Homo sapiens: one gene and its partners. The protein of the gene in region 1 interacts with the protein of each later gene in a biochemical or structural test. Each region holds a gene or a part of one and is shown in the gene's direction. Other genes may lie near its edges. The genes, in order: PHF2, NR1H4 and HNF4A.

What was found.
Region 2: the proteins of PHF2 (region 1) and NR1H4 form a complex in vitro, tested with the Homo sapiens proteins (one study listed by IntAct).
Region 3: the proteins of PHF2 (region 1) and HNF4A form a complex in vitro, tested with the Homo sapiens proteins (one study listed by IntAct).

Annotation. Positions count from the first base shown.
Region 1 is NC_000009.12:93,670,475-93,677,607, forward strand, and holds part of PHF2 (lysine-specific demethylase PHF2), read left to right. Parts: exon of another isoform or gene 1-584; coding exon of another isoform or gene 585-945; intron 946-1,015; coding exon of another isoform or gene 1,016-2,631; exon of another isoform or gene 2,632-3,104; intron 3,105-3,110; coding exon 3,111-3,388; intron 3,389-4,452; coding exon 4,453-4,548; intron 4,549-5,205; coding exon 5,206-5,315; intron 5,316-6,119; coding exon 6,120-6,489; intron 6,490-7,113; coding exon 7,114-7,133. Other genes in the region: fibroin heavy chain-like, read left to right, coding at 585-945, 1,016-2,631. UniProt on the Homo sapiens protein: Lysine demethylase that demethylates both histones and non-histone proteins. Enzymatically inactive by itself, and becomes active following phosphorylation by PKA: forms a complex with ARID5B and mediates demethylation of methylated ARID5B.
Region 2 is NC_000012.12:100,476,787-100,483,919, forward strand, and holds part of NR1H4 (bile acid receptor), read left to right. Parts: intron 1-7,133. UniProt on the Homo sapiens protein: Ligand-activated transcription factor. Receptor for bile acids (BAs) such as chenodeoxycholic acid (CDCA), lithocholic acid, deoxycholic acid (DCA) and allocholic acid (ACA).
Region 3 is NC_000020.11:44,400,591-44,407,723, forward strand, and holds part of HNF4A (hepatocyte nuclear factor 4-alpha), read left to right. Parts: exon of another isoform or gene 1-782; coding exon of another isoform or gene 783-897; intron 898-1,963; coding exon of another isoform or gene 1,964-2,054; intron 2,055-5,467; coding exon 5,468-5,642; intron 5,643-6,790; coding exon 6,791-6,885; intron 6,886-7,133. UniProt on the Homo sapiens protein: Transcriptional regulator which controls the expression of hepatic genes during the transition of endodermal cells to hepatic progenitor cells, facilitating the recruitment of RNA pol II to the promoters of target genes. Activates the transcription of CYP2C38.

The DNA of each region.
Region 1 (7,133 bases):
CCTGGGCCTTGACATTTATAAAGCTTCCCAGGTAGTTCTGGTGCACAGACAGGTGAGGGTCCTGGCTGCAGGGGGTTGTGGGCGGTGGGGCAGGGCCCTGTGAAGAGGCCAGGGCTGCATCCCATGGGAGGGCCTGGCAGGGAGGTCCCCAAGGAGCCCAGGACTTGGCCTTGGGGGTCCTTGCTGTCCAGCAGCACCAAGCCCCTGGTTCTGTGGGATGACAGTGGTCACCCCATTTCACCACTCTGTGAGCCTAGACAGGCTGATCACACACTGGGTGTCTCAGAAGATTCTTCTGGAAGGAGGGGAGCCAGTGTAGACAGGAGGAGGTGTGTGCATAGGCATGGGGCAGAGGAGGAGGATGCGGATGCGAGACAGGCTGGGCGCTATGGGAGGGGCCACCTGAAGCTGAGGGCAGCGGGGGTGCAGACAGGGCAAAGAGAAAGCCTGGGAGTCTGTGTGGAGCCTGCCAGAAGTGGGTGAACTTGGACTGAGCTGAGGTGCAGCTGTGTCTGTTCAGGTGCAGATGCAGCTGCAGGTCTATGTTCAGGTGGGTGCAGGTGTGGGGGTAGGTGCAGGTGTAGATGCAGGTGGGGGTGCAGGGTGGGGGTAGGTGCAGGTGTAGACGCAGGTGGGGGTGCATGTGTGGGGGTAGGTGTAGGTGCAGATGCAGGTGTGGATGTAGGTGTGGGAGTAGGTACAGGTGTAGATGCAGCTGTGGGTGTGGGAGTAGGCACAGGTGTAGTTGCAGGTGTGTGGGAGTAGGCACAGGTGTAGATGCAGGTGCGGGTGTGGGAGTAGGCACAGGTGCAGATGCAGATGTGGGTGTGGGAGTAGGGTCAGGTGTAGATGCAGATGTGGGTGTGGGAGTAGGGTCAGGTGTAGATGCAGGTGTGGGTGTGGATGTAGGTACAGGTGTAGATGCAGATGTGGGTGTGGATGTAGGTACAGGTGTAGATGCAGGTGGGTGTGGATGTAGGTACAGGTGTAGATGCAGATGTGGGTGTGGGAGTAGGTACAGGTGTAGATGCAGGTGTGGGTGTGGATGTAGGTACAGGTGTAGATGCAGATGTGGGTGTGGGAGTAGGGTCAGGTGTAGATGCAGATGTGGGTGTGGGAGTAGGGTCAGGTGTAGATGCAGGTGTGGGTGTGGATGTAGGTACAGGTGTAGATGCAGTTGTGGGTGTGGATGTAGGTACAGGTGTAGATGCAGGTGTGGGTGTGGATGTAGGTACAGGTGTAGATGCAGGTGTGGGTGTGGATGTAGGTACAGGTGTAGATGCAGATGTGGGTGTGGATGTAGGTACAGGTGTAGATGCAGGTGTGGGTGTGGATGTAGGTACAGGTGTAGATGCAGATGTGGGTGTGGGAGTAGGCACAGGTGTAGATGCAGGTGTGGGTGTGGATGTAGGTACAGGTGTAGATGCAGATGTGGGTGTGGGAGTAGGGTCAGGTGTAGATGCAGATGTGGGTGTGGGAGTAGGGTCAGGTGTAGATGCAGATGTGGGTGTGGGAGTAGGGTCAGGTGTAGATGCAGATGTGGGTGTGGGAGTAGGCACAGGTGTAGATGCAGGTGTGGGTGTGGGAGTAGGTACAGGTGTAGATGCAGGTGTGGGTGTGGATGTAGGTACAGGTGTAGATGCAGGTGTGGGTGCGGATGTAGGTACAGGTGTAGATGCAGGTGTGGGTGTGGATGTAGGTACAGGTGTAGATGCAGATGTGGGTGTGGGAGTAGGCACAGGTGTAGATGCAGGTGTGGGTGTGGATGTAGGTACAGGTGTAGATGCAGGTGTGGGTGTGGATGTAGGTACAGGTGTAGATGCAGGTGTGGGTGTGGATGTAGGTACAGGTGTAGATGCAGATGTGGGTGTGGGAGTAGGGTCAGGTGTAGATGCAGGTGTGAGTGTGGGAGTAGGCACAGGTGCAGGTGCAGGTGTGGGTGTGGGAGTAGGCACAGGTGCAGGTGCAGGTGTGGGTGTGGGAGTAGGCACAGGTGTGAGTGTGGGAGTAGGCACAGGTGTACATGCAGGTATGGGTGTAGGTACAGGTGCAGATGCAGGTGTGGGGGTAGGTATAGGTGTAGATGCAGGTATGGGTGTAGGTGTAGGCACCAGTGTAGATGGAGGTGTGGGTATGGGTGTAGGCACAGGTGTAGATGCAGGTGCGGGGGTGGAGGTAGGTACAGGTGTAGATGCAGGTGTGGTTGGAGGTACAGGTGTAGATGCAGGTATGGGTATAGGAGTAGGTACAGGTGTAGATGCAGGTATGGGTATAGGAGTAGGTACAGGTGTAGATGCAGGTATGGGTATAGGAGTAGGTACAGGTGTAGATGCATGTATGGGTGTAGGTGTAGGAACAGGTGTAGATGCAGGTGCAGGGGTGGAGGTAGGTACAGGTGTAGATGCAGGTGTGGTTGGAGGTACAGGTGTAGATGCAGGTGCAGGTGTGAGGGTAGGTACAGGTGTAGATGCACGTATGGGTATAGGAGTAGGTGCAGGTGTAGATGCATGTATGGGTGTAGGTGCAGATGCAGGTGTGGGTAAAGGTGGGGGTGTGGAGAGAAGTTGCAGGTCACTGGGGAAAGCGTGTGCCATGGGAGGGAGTGGGCTACGCTGCCCCATCTCAGGGTGACACATGGGAAGGTTCCCTACAAAGTGGGGTAAGGAATGCCCAGGGCTAGTTCTGTAGTTGGGAGAGAGGCACAGGGTGGACCGAGGGGGTACACAGAGTGGCTGGGGTGCAGGAGGAAGGTCACTGAGTCGGCTTGCTGGCTTTAAGGTGTGAGAGACCAGTGCGTGACCATATGAGGGTCTGGACCCTCCTTCCCATCTGCTGTCTTCCGTCTCCTCTCCATGCCCATCTCTGTCTCCAGGCCTCCAGCCCTCCCTGTGGCATATGGGTGGATGAGCAGAGCTGGATGAGGGGAGTGGCTGGCCTCTTCCAAGGGAGAAGTCATCAGCTCACTGCCACCCTCTCTGCTCCACGCCCTCTGCCTGCCACCTGGGCCAGGAGTTTGTGCAGGAGTTTGTGCAGGCCATAGGCTGTTGTTTAAGTGCCTGGGCTGCAGGCCAAGAGCACTGGGCTGAGTGCCTGTCTCTCTGTGCCCCTAGCCAGCCCCCGGCCTCCCCCAGCACACAGGAAGCCATTCAGGGAATGCTGTCCATGGCCAACCTGCAGGCCTCCGACTCCTGCCTGCAGACCACGTGGGGAGCTGGCCAGGCCAAGGGGAGCTCGCTGGCTGCCCATGGTGCCCGGAAGAATGGGGGTGGCAGTGGCAAGAGTGCAGGCAAACGACTGCTGAAGAGGGCTGCCAAGAACAGTGTCGACCTGGACGACTACGAGGAAGAGCAGGACCACCTGGATGCCTGCTTCAAGGACTCAGACTACGGTGAGTGTCACTCCTGCGTGGGGCAGGGCCCATGCTCAGCCCTAGAAGGCCTGGCTGAGAATGGAGACAGTAGCATAAACATGCAGCTCTCCAAGTTACAGCAGGCCTCAGCTCAGCAAAACCCTCGGCCTCTGACTGCTGTCCCCGGAGACCCTCCTGTGAGCGAGACTGGCCGGGGCCCACATCTGGTGGACAGGCTTGGGCTTCGTGGTGGGGCCTACTCTAGTTTGACAAACAGAATGACAGCAAAGTGAACTCCTGTTTTCTGGGCTCTGGAGGTGTGTGGCACCGGGCGCCATCTTGCTTCCTCCTGAACCTTGGGTCCTGGGCATTCCTCGACAGGCCCCGGAGGTTGAAGGACCACAACCTGCAGTGAGTGTAGGGTGGCACTTGGCTTTTGAGGGTCACAGGGTCACCGCCTCACCGTGTTGGGGCAGCTCCCCACCAGCCACAGGTCATGCCCTACAGTGTCCCCTCCACCTAGACCCGCCAGGCAGGGTGGGGGCTGTCAGAGCCCACCCTCCATGGACGTTAGACGTTTTCCCTTTTCATAGCAACGGAAGGAGTTGTGAGGAGTTTTCACCAAACAGAACCTTTCCTGGAGCCTCAAAGTGTTTCTCTTGCAGGAACTGAGATGCCCTAGTTTGATTATGGGGTCCCATCCTTCCCTGGTTCCCCACTCTCTGCTGTAGCTTCCTCCAGGTGGGGCCTCTGGGGATCTCAAGCTCCATGAACAGATGTACGGAGGGCAGCCCTTAGAGGCCAGGGGCTTGCAGGCACTGGGGCTAGGCTGCACAGATGAGGCTGGGCAGGTAGATGCAGGTGCCTTCTTGTCTGGAGAGTCCCTGCCCCTCTGGATAATCTCTGGGGCCTGTGCCCATGCCTGGGGTGTCCTCACCATGGGCAGCTTCCATCACAGCTGACAGTGACACAGCGTGGCAGGCCTTAGTGTAGGCCCTGGGGTTGCTGGCGAGGAAGGTCTGCAGCCACCTGTACCCCCCCGCCCTCCTCCGTGGACCTGCCCTGCACTCAGCGGGCCACGCCTTCCCTCTGCCTCCCTCTAGTTTACCCCTCACTGGAGTCAGATGAAGACAACCCCATCTTTAAGTCCCGGTCGAAGAAAAGGAAAGGCTCAGACGACGCTCCCTACAGCCCAACAGGTAGTGCTGGGACAGGGGTAGGGGGTCCACCTGACACCCAGTGTGGAAGCTGTGACTTTGTCTGTGGTCCCTCCAGCCCCTGAGAATGTGGGCTCAGCTCTGCACCTGTCCTATCCTGAGGGCTGGGCAGCCCGTCCCGCTGGGGTTGGTCAGCTGCTTGCAGGAGTGCCGTGGGCTTCACTTCTGCTTTGCTTCTGGGGGCCTGGGAGCCCAGATGTGCTTCTACACAGCCCCAACTCAAAAGCCCTCACTCCTCTGGCTGGCTCCTCTCTGGTTTCTTCCTCAATGGGCAGCTCTGTGAGGGTCACCTTTGTACCGGAGGCACCCACTTGATGGTGGCTGAGGGACACCTGCTGGGGCAGCCAGTGGGGTGAGGCCTTGTCCACCTTCCACATTACCCTCACCCGCCTGCCCAGACTCTGATGTTGCTGGGCCTCCTGGGCTCTGCCCCATGCAAACCCCACTGTGGCATCTTCCCCCTTGGGTGGGGCAGCTGACCCTGCCCTATTGTGAGGCGGCTTCACAGCCAGGAATCCCTGTGCTTAGGCCTGCCTGGCCAGGGGGACAGGCTGGGGTGGGGGCAGGGTAGCCCCAAACCAGGAGGGGTGGACAGGCTGTGGCCTACAGCTTGAGGGGGCTGGCCCTTCTTTTCCACAGCAAGGGTCGGCCCATCGGTGCCAAGACAGGACAGGCCTGTGCGTGAGGGTACACGGGTGGCTTCCATCGAGACCGGGCTGGCGGCTGCTGCAGCTAAGTTGTCCCAGCAGGTGAGGAGGGGCGAGAAGGACACACGGCAGCCAGGTCCCTGCTACCCCCACCTGGTGGGCTCAGGTTCCCCAAGGCACCTGTTTCTCCACCCCATACACAGACCCACTGAGCCAGGGGTGGTCACAGGCTTGGGGACATTTGATTAGAGAGTGCCCTATTCCTCCAGGCCCTAAATTCCCCGTGTGGGGTCCGGGGGAGCTAGGAATTGACGACTGGGGCCCTGACACTGGACAGCCCTATTCGTGCCAAGGCTGGGCTACTCTCTGGTACAACAGCAGCTTGGAGGGAGCTCCCCTTCCCCTCCCCCCATCATGTGGGTGTTTTTGAGTTGTCCTCAGTTGGGAAATGAGGTGTTCTGTCTCTACATGCTCCTAAAAATCTCATCTCCCACCTTTAGCTCCTCCCAGCTCAGAAATGGAGGGTCCTAGAGCCTCACATACCCTCCCAACCAGGCCCAACCTCATCTGGGCACACAAGGAAGTTATTAGGATCAAAGTGAATATTCTTCCAGAACTGGGAGATGTATATGGCCACTGAGTGGGGTGATGGGGTAGGAGTGCCATCCTACAGGCTCAACTGCTAGGTTAACTCACACTGACAGGGAGGCCAGGCAGCTGCTGTGGGTGCTGGCGCCCTGTCCGTGTGCATGCTGTGCCCCTGGCGGCCCAGAGTCAGGCCTCAGGCCCCTGCTGCCCAGCCCTGCTGTGCTCAAGGGCCCCTGGCAAGGCCATGCCGGGAGCTCCCTGCTCTGTTGGCCCAAGTGGGCTGTGCGTCTGAGGCTGCCCTGCATGTTTTGTTCAAAGGAGGAGCAGAAAAGCAAGAAAAAAAAGAGTGCCAAGAGGAAGCTGACTCCTAACACCACCTCCCCTTCCACCTCCACCTCCATCTCTGCCGGCACCACCTCCACCTCCACCACGCCAGCCTCTACCACCCCGGCCTCCACCACCCCGGCCTCCACCAGCACGGCCAGCAGCCAGGCCTCGCAGGAGGGCAGCTCGCCAGAGCCCCCGCCTGAGTCGCATAGCAGCAGCCTGGCGGACCATGAGTACACAGCCGCTGGCACCTTCACCGGGGCCCAGGCTGGCCGCACCTCCCAGCCCATGGCCCCTGGGGTCTTTCTCACACAGAGGCGGCCCTCCGCATCGTCTCCAAACAACAACACCGCTGCCAAAGGTACTGTGCCTGCTGGAGGGAGCCTGCAGCCCCCCTGCCCTGCCTGCCCCCATGGGCAGCCCCAGACATGCAGACTCGGCCCATGGTAGAGGGCAGCACATTGGGAGGGCTCCTGGGCCTTGGGTGGCAGGGTGCTGTGGTCCAAGTTGGTTGCATCTTTGTGTGAGCGTATCCCACAGTACAGGACGTGTGCTTTCATCCTTCTGCTCAGTGGGCGTGCTCAGCCCCTGATCTGCCTGCACCCCTGCACCCCAGCCGTGGGGCCGGCCAGCTGTGGGGACTGAGTGATGCAGCACGGGGTGCTGGCAGTGGCTCCTGGCCTTGTTACTGGGGGTGGTGCCCAGGCATCCTCATGTCCTCCTCATAATGCCATCCCCAAGCCCATGTCCATCCTACCTGCCAGGGCCCCTTGAGGACACGGCCTCTGAGGCGGAGGCTTTGCCAGTGATCCCAGACTCCTGAAGGGTGCTGAGCTCGGAGCTGGGGCTTCATAGGCCCATTTTACAGATGGGGGACTGCAGGCTGCCCCTTAGTGTCAGCGGGACCCTCCCCCCCACCGGCATGCCACGCCCCTTGCCATCTAGCTTACCTTCCCTTTTTGTGTCCCCTCCCCGACTCCCCTAGGAAAACGTACGAAAAAGGGC
Region 2 (7,133 bases), on another chromosome or scaffold:
TGAGGTGGAAGGATTGCTTGAGCTCAGGAGTTCAAGGCTGCAGTGAGCTATGATAATGCCACTATACTCTAGCCTGGGTAACATAGAGAGACACCACCTCAAAATTTTTTTTAAAAAATAAGAAATAGGAACAATTTTCCTCCCAGGTATTTTTTTATTGTCACAGTAGTTTCTACCAGTGAAGATGTAGCTAAAAGGCATCACCATACGAGTGTCCTTAGTCACCAAGCTGTATGAGGAGGCAAAAATCATTATTACATACAAATATTCATCCTTCTGTCTTTTCTCTCCCTTCTCTCACCCTGCTCTGGAATCCCCTAACCCCTTTGCTCTTCACAGTGAATTATTTTCTCCCTCAGTTTGCCCATTTCCAATTTTGGCCATAAAAGAACATCTACTATTCCTACTCTCTCTGCTTTGTAAATTGGTGATAAGATGACACTAATATAATGCAACTTGATTGCAAAGTAAAATTGCAAATATTGCACAGGAAAAAAAATAAGATTTATTCTTTGTTAGGATTAAGAAATATAACAGGGTTCTGGTGATTAAAATAAATAAGTATAAATATAAAATAAATTTTTATTAATTTTCATTTTTTAATATAAAATCCTAACAAAACTTTGAGATTTTGCTTCCCATTTTAAAGAGATTTAGATGACCTTTCCCAGGTCTCAATGAACCTGAGACAACCTGGGTCTATTACACTTTAATTAATGTTATTAATGTAAAGAAAAGGAGAAATGGTATGGCTTTGCATTTTCAAGTCCTGTAGATATATTTAACACAGTTATCTGGAAAACATGGTAAATAATGTAGTTGTGCATGGAGAAGATAGTCCTGCTGTGGGATGTTGCTGATTAGAGAAAACAAAAACACTGCTCTGGGCTGTGACTGTTCCTAAGCAGAGAGCTATTTGCTGCCATGTCCTAGAGAGTTATGGAAGCTGCCAGTGTAGACGACAAGTTGATACCAGCCTGGGGCTTAAGGAGCAAAAGCTGGTTGCCATCCAGAATTTGCAGGGCAGAGACAGGACAAAGAAATGTCATTCCAAAGTGGTCATGTAAAAGATTCTTGCTCTCCTGGAGTCCCGACTCTGAATCTGAGGCTATAGCTGGGCTTCAGGGGGCCAGGGTCACTTAAGACTACATTTAAAAATCTATGCATTTTACAGAGAATTTTTAGGGCAGTGAATTCATTCTATATGATATTACCAATGGTGGGTACATGTTATTATACACTTGTCAAGACCCATAGAATACACAACACCAAGATTGAGCCCTAATGTAAACTATAGTCCTTCGCTGATAAAGATGTGTCAGCATAGGTTCATCGATTGTAAAAAAATGTGCCACTCTGGTGCTGGTTGTTGAAAGTAAAGGAGGCTGTGCATGTGTGTGGGGGGTGGGGGAGAAGACGTATATGGAGGCTCTCCATACATTTTGTTCAATTTTATAGTGAACATAAAATTTCTCCTAAACATTTATTAATTTAGAAAAATATCTGTATTTTGTGTATGTCTTTCCTAGAGAGAGGTTTATAATTTTTGTTGAAGCTCAAAAATGCTGCACAATCCTAAAATTGTTTTAAGAAAATGAAGCAAACCCTTCTTTTCTGGAGAATCTAAATATACCTGCTTATAGCATCTGATTATATAATTGGCAAAGTTGAGGACAGGAAATGATACCCTAGGAGACTGACATATCTTAATGTAGTCATTGTGTTAAAAGTTTCAACATTATGAATAAGTCTAAAATATTTTTTGACCTTCCCCTAGCCCTATTCTCCTCTACTTCACTGTTTCAATGTTAATACATATCAAAACACTTTAATCTTGTTTAACCACTTCCTAATAGTTGATACTATAGAGCACAGTTCATTTAGCCATTCCACTGTTGATGGTTTTTTAGGTGGTTTGCCCTCTTTCTGCATTAGAGGCAATGCTACAATGAACATCCTGGTGCATACCAGCAAAGATTTCTCCAGGAAAGATACCTAGGAATTAAAATTGCACTTTATTTTAAGATACACTGCTAAAGAGCCCTCCAAAAAGACTAAAACCTATGCCCCCACTAGCAATATGTGAGAATGCATATTTTCATACACTTTGAATATTATCAAAGTTAAAATTTTTTGATAATCTCATAGGTGAAAATGGTATTTAGTTATAGTAATATCCATTTTCCTAATTATTATTAGTTTCAGATATTTTCTGTGTTTACTGGCCACTTGTGTTTCCACTTTGGTGAATTTCCTTTTTGTATCCTTTGCCAATTTCTCTCTTGGGTTGTTTATCCTTTCTGTTTTTATTTATAGGAATCGTTTATATATTGTTTGTACTAATATTTTTGGTGTTATTTATGTTGTAAATATTTTTATCCATTTTTATATATTTAGCTTTGTTTGTGATGCCTTAACCTCTGTCTTACATTTCAACGTTCTCAAATGTATTCTTTTCCTATTTACTTCTTATTTAATAAAGTCCTTCTCAATCCCCAAATCCATAAAGATCATAAATATATTTTCTCCCAATAATTTTATAATTTTCAGTCTTTAATCCATCTGAGATGTATTTTCCAAGAATGATTCATAAAGATGTCTTTATTTTTACCCTCAAAGCATAGGCAATTTTCTTGCCACAATTTCTTGAATAGGTCATCCTTCTTCCACTGATTTGAGCTGAGTCCACTAGCTACAGCATAGACAACTATTTAGGGTTGCTCAGAACACAGCATGCTATTTTCCCTTCCTATAGCCATCCCTGTTGCGTGTCATTTTCCTAGCCTAATGCCTATTCCTTCAAGACTAAGTTCAAGAATCAACCCTCCACGCTCAGAAAGATTTCCCTCATTCTCCTCACTATACCCTTGTTTAAAACTCATCAATTACTTCCATTTAGAAGAAAATCCAAACTCCTTACCATGGCCAACAGGCCATACAAGAGCTGCCTACTCTCAGACCTCATTTCCTATAGCCCCTCCTTGGCTCACTCATTTCCAGCCTCACTGGGCTTGTGTTGTTCTTCCAACACTCCAAGCCCAGGCCCTTTGCTTTTGCTGATCACTCTGCCTGAACTTATTTTCCCTTTGTATGACTTACTCATTCTTGTCCTTCACATCTCAGTTCGAATGTCCACTTTTCAGAGAGCTCTTCTCTGATTGCCCTCTCCAAAACTGTGTTCAACTACAACACTCTATACTTCTCTTTTACTTTCTTATTATCCTCATCAGAAATCCTATTATTTGTTGACTTGTGTATTATTCACTTATCCCTCTAGAATGTAAGCTCTTTGTCTTACCACTGTATTTCTAAAACCTAGACCGAAACTTGGTATGTAGTAGAGAATTAATGAATATTGGATGAATGAATGTCCCTGCTTGTGCTCCTGATGGCACCTGTGCTTAGCTCTGTTGTAGCAATCCTCACACTACTACCATTGGGTTTTTCTTGCCTGACTTTTCCACTAAGCTTTCTGAAAAATCATTATTTTTTACTATGTCTAGTGTCTGTCAATAAATGTGCACTGACAAAATAAATGAGTGAATGAATGGGAAATTGATGTTGAGATGCCGTTTTTAAAGAGTAAGTACCTTATCACACATAGCTAAAGAGACCAACTGACACATCCACCGTACTAGTGGGAAATCTTAGATCTATAAGTTTAGAAACATTTCTATCTTCCAAGTTACCACAGGAGACAGTGTTACTGATTGTTTCATGATTATAAACAGGACCCCCATCTTCCCACCTCCTATGGGAATTTTCTTATTGTTCTTCCAGTTTCCACTAACCAGTCTCCTCACTGCCCTTCTAGCCTCAGATCATCCCCCAATCCCAAAGCCCAGGCCATATATGTTAGCGGTTTTTTTAGACAGCATCTCACTTCCAGGTACTGATTTCTATACCAGTCATTTATGTCTTTGTAACAACCATCCCAAAGCTTAGTGGCATAAAACAGGAATGATCCATTAATTCTCATAGTTCTGTGGGGCGGCTGAGCAGCTTCTCTGCTGGTTATGCCTGGGTTCACTCATGTTGCTCATTCAGATGTGAGTTCAACTGGAATGAAAGGACTGAGATGGCCTCACTCATGTCTGGGGTCTTGATGTGGCCGTCAGCTGGGATAGTTGGAAGAGCTGGACTTCTTTCTCCATGAGATTTTTAAATCTGAGATATCTGCAAACAGTATGGCAATCTCAGGGCAGCATTCTTTCTTAGATATGGAAAACAGAAGCTACAAGGTCTCTTAAAGCCTGGCTTAGAAGTCCCCAACCTCACTTCCACCACATTCTGTTGGTCAACGAATTTATTAGACCAGCTCAGGTCCAAGGGCTAGCGAAACAGACTTTGTGCATTGATGAGAGGTGTGGCAAACTCACATTGTAAGAGCGTGTGGAAAGGAAGCAATTGTGGTGGCCATCTTTGCAAACAATTTCCATGAGTAAGAGGCATAATATTTCAAAGATCCAATTAAGTATTTGAAAAAAAAAATGACAAGTTAGTCACGGAGAAAGCATTCAACAAATAGCTTCTTGACCATTTTGACTAATGTACATAATGCGAAAAAAGAAAAAACAAACTTTCCTGATTATGAAGAGTGAACATTAAGAAGACCAAACAACCACAACAACAAAACTATTCCTGGTAGTTCTGATGGAAGAGAATTAACAACGGGAAATTCGCGAGATTAATTAAAACTATTTCCGGCCCAGCATGGTGGCTCACTCCTGTAATCCCAGCACTTTGGGAGGCTGAGGTGGGCAGATTGCTTGAGCTCAGGAGTTCTAGACCAGCCTGGGCAACATGGTGAAATCCTGTCTCTACAAAAAATTAAAAAAATTAGCTGGGGCTGGGCACGGTGGCTCATGCCTGAATCCCAGCACTTTGGGAGGCCGAAGCTGGCAGATCATGAGGTCAGGAGATCGAGACCATCCTGGCTAACACGGTGAAACCCCATCTCTACTAAAAATACAAAAAATTAGCTGGGCATGGTGGCGGGTGCCTGTAGTCCCAGCTACTCGGGAGGCTGAGGCAGGAGAATGGTGTGAACCCAGGAGGCGGAGCTTGCAGTGAGCCGAGATGGCACCACTGCACTCCAGCCTGGGTGACAGAGCGAGACTCCATCTCAAAAAAATAAAAATAAAAATAAATAAATAAATAAATAAAATTAGCTGGGCAAGTGGTGCATGCCTGTAGTCCCAGCTACTTGGGAGGCTGAGGTGTGAGGATTGCTTGAGCCTGGGAGGTCAAGACTGCAGCGAGCTAAGATCGCACCACTGCATTCCAGCCCAGGTGAAAGAGAGAGACCCTGTCTCAAAACAAACAAACAAACAACAAAAACCCTGAAACAAAACAAAACAATTTCCTGGGGTGGTCAACTCATGTATAAAATGGTTCCCATGGGGAGACTGGAAAGCCTATGCTTAAGAGATTTCCAATAAAAATGGTTACCATTCACTAATTAGTCTACATTGTGGGGAAGCAGACTTAGTTGTTAGATTTCTTTATGTGACAAAAAAAAAATCCTTCTTCGGCTCTTGTGTGTATTGTGTTGTATGCCTCTATTCACTAATTTCTGTCCTATGGCCTAAGCAAGACTGATTCTAAAGGTGGTTATCTAGTAAGGTATATTATTCATTCACTCATTTATGTATTAGTTACTTTATTTATTCATGCAACCATTTGTTCATTTACTCAATTAACAAGAATTTATTGTGCATCTAAGATGTACCTGGCTGGCATTGTGCAAGGCATTGGAGATCCAATGTAATCTCTCCTAGAGCTGCTGGTTTAATGGGAGACACAGAAAACCAAATCCACAAAAACAAAGGTTGAATTACAATGGTAACACCACTGCAAAGAAGAAGTACCCAGGGCTATGAACGTCTCCTGGAGTTTGTGCTAATCAAGGAGTTGAGAAGCAGGGCTAGGCCTAGAGCTAGGCAAGTGAGGCACTGAGGGTGCAAAATTTAAGAAGACATTCACTTCCAGGTTCCTGGTCCTGGAAGCCTCAACTCCAGGTGCTTCTTCTACATCTAGTTGGAAATAAAGGTCAGCTGTTGTTTAGGCACCATTGTGTAAGCTCCAGAGAGCAGAGACGCTTTGAAAGCTGTGGATATCTAGTTGATGCAGGTATTTTATTATTTATTTATTTATTTGAGACAGAGTGTCACTCTGTCACAAGACTGGAGTGTAGTGGCGCAATCTCGGCTCACTGCAACCTCTGCTTCCTGGGTTCAAGCAATTCTTCTGCCTCAGCCTCCCAAGTAGCTGGGACTACAGGCGTGTGCCACCGTGCCCAGCTAATTTTTGTATTTTTAGTAGAGATGGAGTTTCACCATGTTGGCCAGGCTGGTCTCAAATCCCTGACCTCAGGTGATCCACCCACCTCAGCCTCCCAAAGTGCTGGGATTACAGGCATGAGCCACTGTGCCTGGCCTGTCATAGTTCTTGACAAACAAGTCATATTTCTTGCTGCTAATGGGCACAAACAAAACTGAGGTTGATTAGTTTGAATATCAGTATAAGTTGATCATAGATATGATCCAGAGAATGCTATTATTAAAAATTTAATTAAAATGTTAATTTAAATATTAAATTTTATTTTAATCTATCACTAAAAATCTATGTAGTGGTTACTAAGATAGTAATAAAAATTGTTTGGTTCTTATAGAGCACTGTCTTCAGAATGATGTGGTCCAATGGTCATATTGGCTCGCAGCCATCCTTGTTGGCCATATGTTGTCCTTGACGTGTCTCTGGATTTTCGGAAGTATCTATTTATTCTAAATCTGTATTTCTGTCCTGGAAAGAACTTCAGTTTGAGTGCTGCTTGAAGACCAAATACTTGGAAAAATAAAACGTTTTTTCTTTTCCTAGAGCTCTTTTCTCTTTTTCCTTAAGAATATATTTCCAGGTCAGGCGCGGTGGCTCACGCCTGTAATCCCAGCACTTTGGGAGGCCAAGGCGGGTGGATCACTTGAGGTCAGGAGTTTGAGACCAGTCTGGCCAACATGGTGAAACCCTGTCTCTACTGAAAATACAAAAATTAGCTGGGTGTGGTGGTGCATGCCTGTAATCCCAACTACTCGGGAGGCTGAGGCAGGAGAATCACTTGAACCCGGGAGATGAAG
Region 3 (7,133 bases), on another chromosome or scaffold:
AAATCCGAGATGGAGCCAGCCTGGGCCAGAAACACTGGGAGCTGTGGGAGACGGAGAGGGGCAGGGTGGGATCACAGGGAGCAGGAGCGGGGAATTGGAGGTGAATCTGGCCCTCCCAAACTTCCAGTCCATTCTGCTCCCAGGGGAACCGGGAAACTGCGGGGGAACTGGAAGGGAGCTCCCAGAACAAGGATCCAGAAGATTGGCATCTGGGGCCTGGGATTTAGGTTTCTAAATCGTGGGCCATGGGGCAGCCTTATCTCTGCAAAAGCATTGAGGGTAGAAGTCAATGATTTGGGAAGTTATTGAATTAGGGGATCTCGGAGGTAGGCTGTCAGTGCCTGATAGTATCAGTTAGAATGCCTGACTTGGGGTGACAATGGCTTGGAGGGGTGGGTGAGTCAAGGGTCAAATGAGTGCCCGTGAGTCATGATGCCTGCCTTGTACAATTGATAACTGAACATCGGTGAGTTAGGGCCCCAGCAGTTGTAATTAGCACCCCGGGTGTCAGCCAGAAACCAACAAACAGCCAAATCCCTGCAGCCCCGCCCAGCCTATCCACCGGCGGGGGACCGATTAACCATTAACCCCCACCCCTCCCCGGCAGAGCCTCCACCCCTTCACAGAGGCTAGGCCAAGACTCCCAGCAGATCTTCCCAGAGGACGGTTTGAAAGGAAGGCAGAGAGGGCACTGGGAGGAGGCAGTGGGAGGGCGGAGGGCGGGGGCCTTCGGGGTGGGCGCCCAGGGTAGGGCAGGTGGCCGCGGCGTGGAGGCAGGGAGAATGCGACTCTCCAAAACCCTCGTCGACATGGACATGGCCGACTACAGTGCTGCACTGGACCCAGCCTACACCACCCTGGAATTTGAGAATGTGCAGGTGTTGACGATGGGCAATGGTAGGTGGGGGCAGATGTGCCCAGGTGTGCCAGTGGGGGCAGGTGTGCCTGGGTCCAGGAGCAGATCTTTGGCACTCAACTTTGGGGTGGGAGGAGAATGATACAAAATGGTAGGTTGGTCCTACAGGCCAGCACAGGTGTTGCCAAGTGAAGCCCATGTGCCCAGGCACAGTGATCACAGGCATTCTGGGTGAAGGGAGGCCTGCAAGGGCCAATTTCCAGCAAAAGTCGATCCCGGCTATTCCTCCCAGGCCCTTCCAGTCCTCACTGCCTCACAGTGGCTCTGCTTGGCGCTTGGCACAGTGACGTGATGGTGAGCTCCCCCTTGGTGCCCAGCTCCAGCGATTCAGCCCAGCACGGCCCCTTCGTGAACCCCTTGGGCCTAGGTTCAGAGAGACGGCAAGGGATGTTGTATCCCTGGAGATGGTGGTTGGAGACATAACCGCATTTCTCGGTGTCTTTGGGACTTTCCTAGGGAAATGAAATTGGCACTTAGGGAAAATGGAGCTCTCAGGGAAGTTTTGCTAACTACGAAGCCAACTCAGCACTGTGTGTGTTGTGTGTGCGTTCGTGTGTGATAGTGAGTTTCCATGTAGGTTGTATGGGTGGGGTGATGCCTTCAGGAACCCATTTGCATATGTGTGTTCATTTGTCTCTGTGTGTGAGTTCTGGGTCTATTTTCCTTTGTATTCATTGAGTGGGTCTGTGTTTGTGTCTTAGGAGTTGCCCGTGTTGATCTTGCTTATGTATGTAAGTGTGTATGTGTGTGTACTTGTGTCTGTGGATGTTTGTACATGTGTGCTGTGTGTGCGGGTCATAGAGCACATGCGTTTGTGCATGCGGACCTGTTGGAGTGCCCTGTTCTTCCTGCATCTTTATCCTGTATGGGCGTTTTGTCGTGTGCCCATATTTGTACCTGCTGTGTATATATGCAGTTCCCTGTGCTGCGGGCGGGGGTCAGCGGTCTCTGGTGTGCACGACTGCACAGACCCAAATGCAGGACTCTGTTGTTGCCACTCACCAAGTGAGATTCATATCAGCAACATGTCCGTTTGTCTCTGAGCAGATTTTGTTGCCGCTGCGTCTCGCCAGATTGAGGCATCCCCTCCGACATCACTGGAGCATATCTGGAGGGGTGGACAGTTCTCCACAGGGAGGTAGGGGAAAAGAGGAGGCCCGGAAACCCCTCCTGGAGGGAAGAGCCCCATCGGTCCCAGGCCAGCCTCAGAGGAGAGGGGGCAGGCAGCTGGCTGAGGTCAGCCTGCCACCCTGCTTCCTTCTGTGTCTTGGAGCCACTCAGCCAGTATGAGGCTGCAGCTCCAGCTGAGGTCTGGAATCTTGTGGTCAGCTCAGCTAGGGTGAGGAGGCAGCTGCTGGGCACTGCTTGTTGTCAGCTCAGCAGGTGCTCACCTGCCCCTGCCGTCCAGTCACGTGTGACCTTGGGCATGTCACCTCCCCTATCCTGGCTTCTGTATCTTCTACAAAACAGGCTTCATTCCCCCAGGCCTGCTGGCTGGACGGCTTTTAGGCCTGTCTGAGGACCACGCCAGGAGCGCAAGGCAAAAACACACCAGAGATAGCAAACAAGCTGCTGCTGCACTAGGTGGAGTGTTGTGTGGCCCCACGAGGACCACTGCCCTGCCCTGGGCTGCTCCCCGCCCCCATCACTTTTTCCAAGCCCAGGAACTGTGTGCTCCTGAGGCAGAGGCCAAGCCCCTGAACTGGGAGTCCCAAAGACAAGACCACCTCCAGCTCTGGAACCAGAAAGATCTGGGCTCAAATCCGGCATAGATCCTTCCAACCTGTGTGAATGTGGCAAGGCAATTTCCTCTCTGAGCCTCAGTTTCCTCACCTATAAAATGGGAATAAATAATAGTGTCTGTCTCCCAGGGCTGGCCAGAGGATAAATAAGATGAGGTGCCTGGGTGCTTAGCCCTGGTAAAGGGCCTGGCCCCACCATGGGTCATCTCAAGGGCTCTGAGCATCTGTAAGCAGGGTCCCCACATTCCTCACTGGAGTTTGAAGTGGTCTGAATTGGGGTTATGTGAAGTTGTCCTCTGAAGTGTTTTGAGTACATCCTGGGCTGGTGTCTGAAAGGCTCCAAGGATATTTCTCCCCCGTCCTCTCCCCACCCCAATGGAGCAGCAGCCCTGGGTGGCTCCTTGTTCATTAGAGGCCCAGCAGACACCTCAACATGTGTGGCACTGGCTGGAGTAGCCCAGCAAGCCTGGACCATAAACCCATGGCTCTGCTTCACGGGAAGCAGTGCGATGACACCAGGAAGCCACTTTTCCTCTCTAAGCCTCAGTGTCCTCATCTGTGGAATAGAGGTGCTCGGCTGACCTCAGAGGGGAGATGATAGAGCTGACAGCCCCCAGCCCATCCTGCCTCAGAGGTGGGAGCTACTTCCCCAGCCTCCTGCTGAATGGCCAGGAGCTGTGGGGGTCAGCTCTCCCCGGGGGTCGGGGGAGGAGAGGCCGAGGGAGAAAGGGCACCCACGTGGCTTAACAATTATCCCCATCTCCAGGAATAATTCACCAAGTGGAGGGGGCTGCACTCCTGGGGACACCTGGGAGTCTGCGATGGCAGAAATGAGATGCGGCAGTGTCTGCTTGTGCAAGGAGCCTGGAAGTCCTCTGCTCCGAGAGTTTTCCTATGTGGAAAAGTTTTTATTTCATGAACACTGATATAGTGCTTACTATGTGCCAAGCACTTCACATACACATATGAGAATTCACCGAATCCCCATAACGAACCTAGGGGAATATCACGTTCCCCATTTTACAAGTGAGGAAACAAAAGCATAGAGAAGTAAACGAACACAGTCAATGTCACACGGCTAAAAAGTGGGCAAGCTGGAATTGAACCCTGGGCAGAAGGACTTCAGAGGCTGTGCTGTTACCTACAGTGCATGGCCCTCTCTGGGTCTTAACTGGATGCCCCTGAGGAATCCAAGGTTGGATTCAGGATTTCTATGAATACACGTGTGTGTGTGTGTGTCTGTGTATGTGTGTATGTTTGTGCATGTGAGCATGTGTGTGTGGACTGTGTGTATGTGTATGTATATGTGTGGACTGTATGTGTGCACACATTTGTATATGTGTGTGTTGATGTGTTTGTATGTATGCATGTGTGTGGACTATGTGCAAGTGTGTGCAATGTATGTGGACTGTGTGCATGTGTGGACTGTGTGTATGTGTGTGCATGTGTGTGGAGCGTGTGTGTGCTTATGTGTGGACTCTGTGTTCATGTGTGTGTACTGTATGTGTACACATGTGTGTATATATGTGTGTGTGTGCGTGTGTCTGTGTGGTGTGTGGACTGTGTGGTGTGTGTGAACTGTGGTGTGTGTGTGCGTGACTGTGTGGTGTGTGTGCGCGTGTGTGTGACTGCTTGGTGTGTGTGAACTGTGGTGTGTGTGGTGTGTGTGTGCTTGTGTGTGGTGTGTGTGCGTGTGTGGGAACTGTGTGGTGTGTGTGGACTGTGGTGTGTAAGGTGTGTGTGTGCTTGTGTGTGGTGTGTGCGTGTGTGTGGACTGTGTGGTGCGTGTGTGTGCTTGTGTGTGGACTGTGTGGTGCGTGTGTGTGGACTGTGTGGTGCGTGTGTGTGCTTGTGCGTAGCGTGTGTGCGTGTGTGTGGACTGTGTGGCACACACGCTTGCATTTTCCCGGGGGCTGACCCATTGCATTTGTCATCTTCTTCAAAGGGGTCTATCTTTGCTGAAAGATTTGCTGACAAATAAAGGGGGTTCAGCTGCTGCTATTTTTTTAAATTTGGAAACAAATTTTTTAAATTTTTTAAATTTTTTAAATTTGGAAACAGACCAGTCAAACTGCTGCCTTTTATGGTTAGAGAAAATGAGGCCCAGAAGAAATTGAAGCAGGGAAAGCGAAGTTGCCCAAGTTTACAGGCGAGTTAGTGGCAGCATCAGCAGTAGTGCCCAGGACTCCTGGCACCCAGCCCAAGATCCTCTTTCCACCTGCCTCTACGGCCCCCCTCACATTTGTGTAGATGCAGTAGCTTTTGCCTGTGGGATGGGAGGGATGGGAGATGTGTCCAGACCCTCCTAGGAGGCCACATGAGTGTGACTGTTCTCGGCCCAAGTCTTTCTCGTTCCTCAGAGAATTTGCGGGGCCCCTGGGCACACAAGCTGAGATCCACCCAGCCCTGGTCCCTTGGCAAGAACTGAGGGACAGGACCTGGTTCTGGGGAAAATGCAGGGGAATGTTTCTCCCTTCCACAGCCCCCTTGCGAGTTAGGAGGCCGGCTCCCACCCCAGAAGGTGGCCAGGTTTTCATGCCTTCCTAGAGAAAGCTGGGGCTCGTGGCCTCCACCACAGGAAGACGCAGACCCTCAGAAACAAGTCTGTGAAGTCACAACCAGCCCCAGTTTACAGATGTGAAACTGAAGCTCCAAAAAGTCAGGAGGTCACTGAGTGGGGAGGTGATGGAGTGGGAACAGCCCCCAGATCTGGCTGAGGCCGAAGCCCTGGAGAGATCCCCGCAAGGCTCCCTTAGATGCCTGACATTCTGTTCTTCCTGAAGCCTCACTCCCTTCTCTCCTGGCGCAGACACGTCCCCATCAGAAGGCACCAACCTCAACGCGCCCAACAGCCTGGGTGTCAGCGCCCTGTGTGCCATCTGCGGGGACCGGGCCACGGGCAAACACTACGGTGCCTCGAGCTGTGACGGCTGCAAGGGCTTCTTCCGGAGGAGCGTGCGGAAGAACCACATGTACTCCTGCAGGTGAGGAGCCTCAATTTCTTCAGCTGGGAAATGGGCACACTTGGGCTCATGGCCCCAAGGTCTGTCTTCTCCCTGAGTGGGTAGGTCCCAGAGACAGCTGCCCTTCAGGGCCTTCAAGGCTCTTCTGGTTTTGTAAAAGACTTTGTGAATCCAAGAAGAGCATCTATTCTAGGAACCACATTTACTGATCATCAAGCTACTGGCTGCCGTTTATTGAGCTCTTATCATATGCCAGGCACAATACTAAGTCTTTGTGTGTATTTACCCATCCCCTTGAGCCCATTGTTGTTTTTCCCATTCCATGGGGCCTCTCCTGAAGCCTCAGTAGATGAGCCCGTCTTCCAGTCTGGTGCTGTTTTTGGGACAAATAGGAGATTGACCCCAGGCCGTTCCACCTACCCCAGGGGCTTCCACCAACCCCAAAGTCTTCCCAAGGCCTTGGAGAGCCCTCTTTCGAAAGCATCTCCTGTTCTGGGTAATGACAATAATAAAATCATAGCAGCTGTCAATTGCGAGCACTTGTCATGTACAAAGACTGTGCCCCATCGGCGCATGACTTCATTTCACCTGTCAACACCCCTGTGAGATGGTTACTGTTGTTATTCCCATTTTATAGAGGAGGAAGCTGTGGCTTGGAGGGCTAGGCATTTGCCCAAGGTCAACCAGCTTGAATCACTGGCAGAGCCAGGGTTAACATTCAGGGCCCCACCCATCACCACGGTGTGGCACTGCCTCTACTTCCTATCCCCCTCCAGAGAGAGGCTTATGTGAACCGAGTATTAACTCTGAGCCATAACCAGGAGCCTGCTATGGGTTCTGAGCTTTTATAGGATGTGGTGGAAATAGCAGGGCTCTGGTACTCCAGAGGTCAAGGTTCCCAACTCAGCTCTAACACCAACCAGCAGAGCGACCCAGGACCACATGTTGCCTCTCTGAGCCTCAGTTTTCCCATGTTTAGCAGGACAGGACTGGGCTCTTAGAGAGTTCATAGCACCTTTCCAGCTCCTGGTGGGTTCAAGAGAGAACTCCCGGGATGAAGAGATGAGAGCACTGAGGTTGGGGGGTCAACTGGATAGCCAGGGCCCTAGTTCTGTCCTAAGAGGAGGAAGTTGTGTCTTCTCCATCCAACCATCCAAAGCCCTCCCCAGATTTAGCCGGCAGTGCGTGGTGGACAAAGACAAGAGGAACCAGTGCCGCTACTGCAGGCTCAAGAAATGCTTCCGGGCTGGCATGAAGAAGGAAGGTGAGCCTCGGCCCTCCCCGCCCCACCACCACTGCCCCACCTGCACCCACAGCTCCCCGACAGTCATTTACAACTGTAGCCACACTTTATGACTCAGTGGCAGGCCCCAGGGTGACTGGCTAATGGCTGAGAAGAGGGAGGGCCTGGAAATCTGACCATAGGGAGCGGCTGGGCTTGGTCTTGAGAAAGATTCAGAGAGATAAGCTCCCACTCTTGGCTCCTCAGGCTCCCAGCAACCACCACCCCTG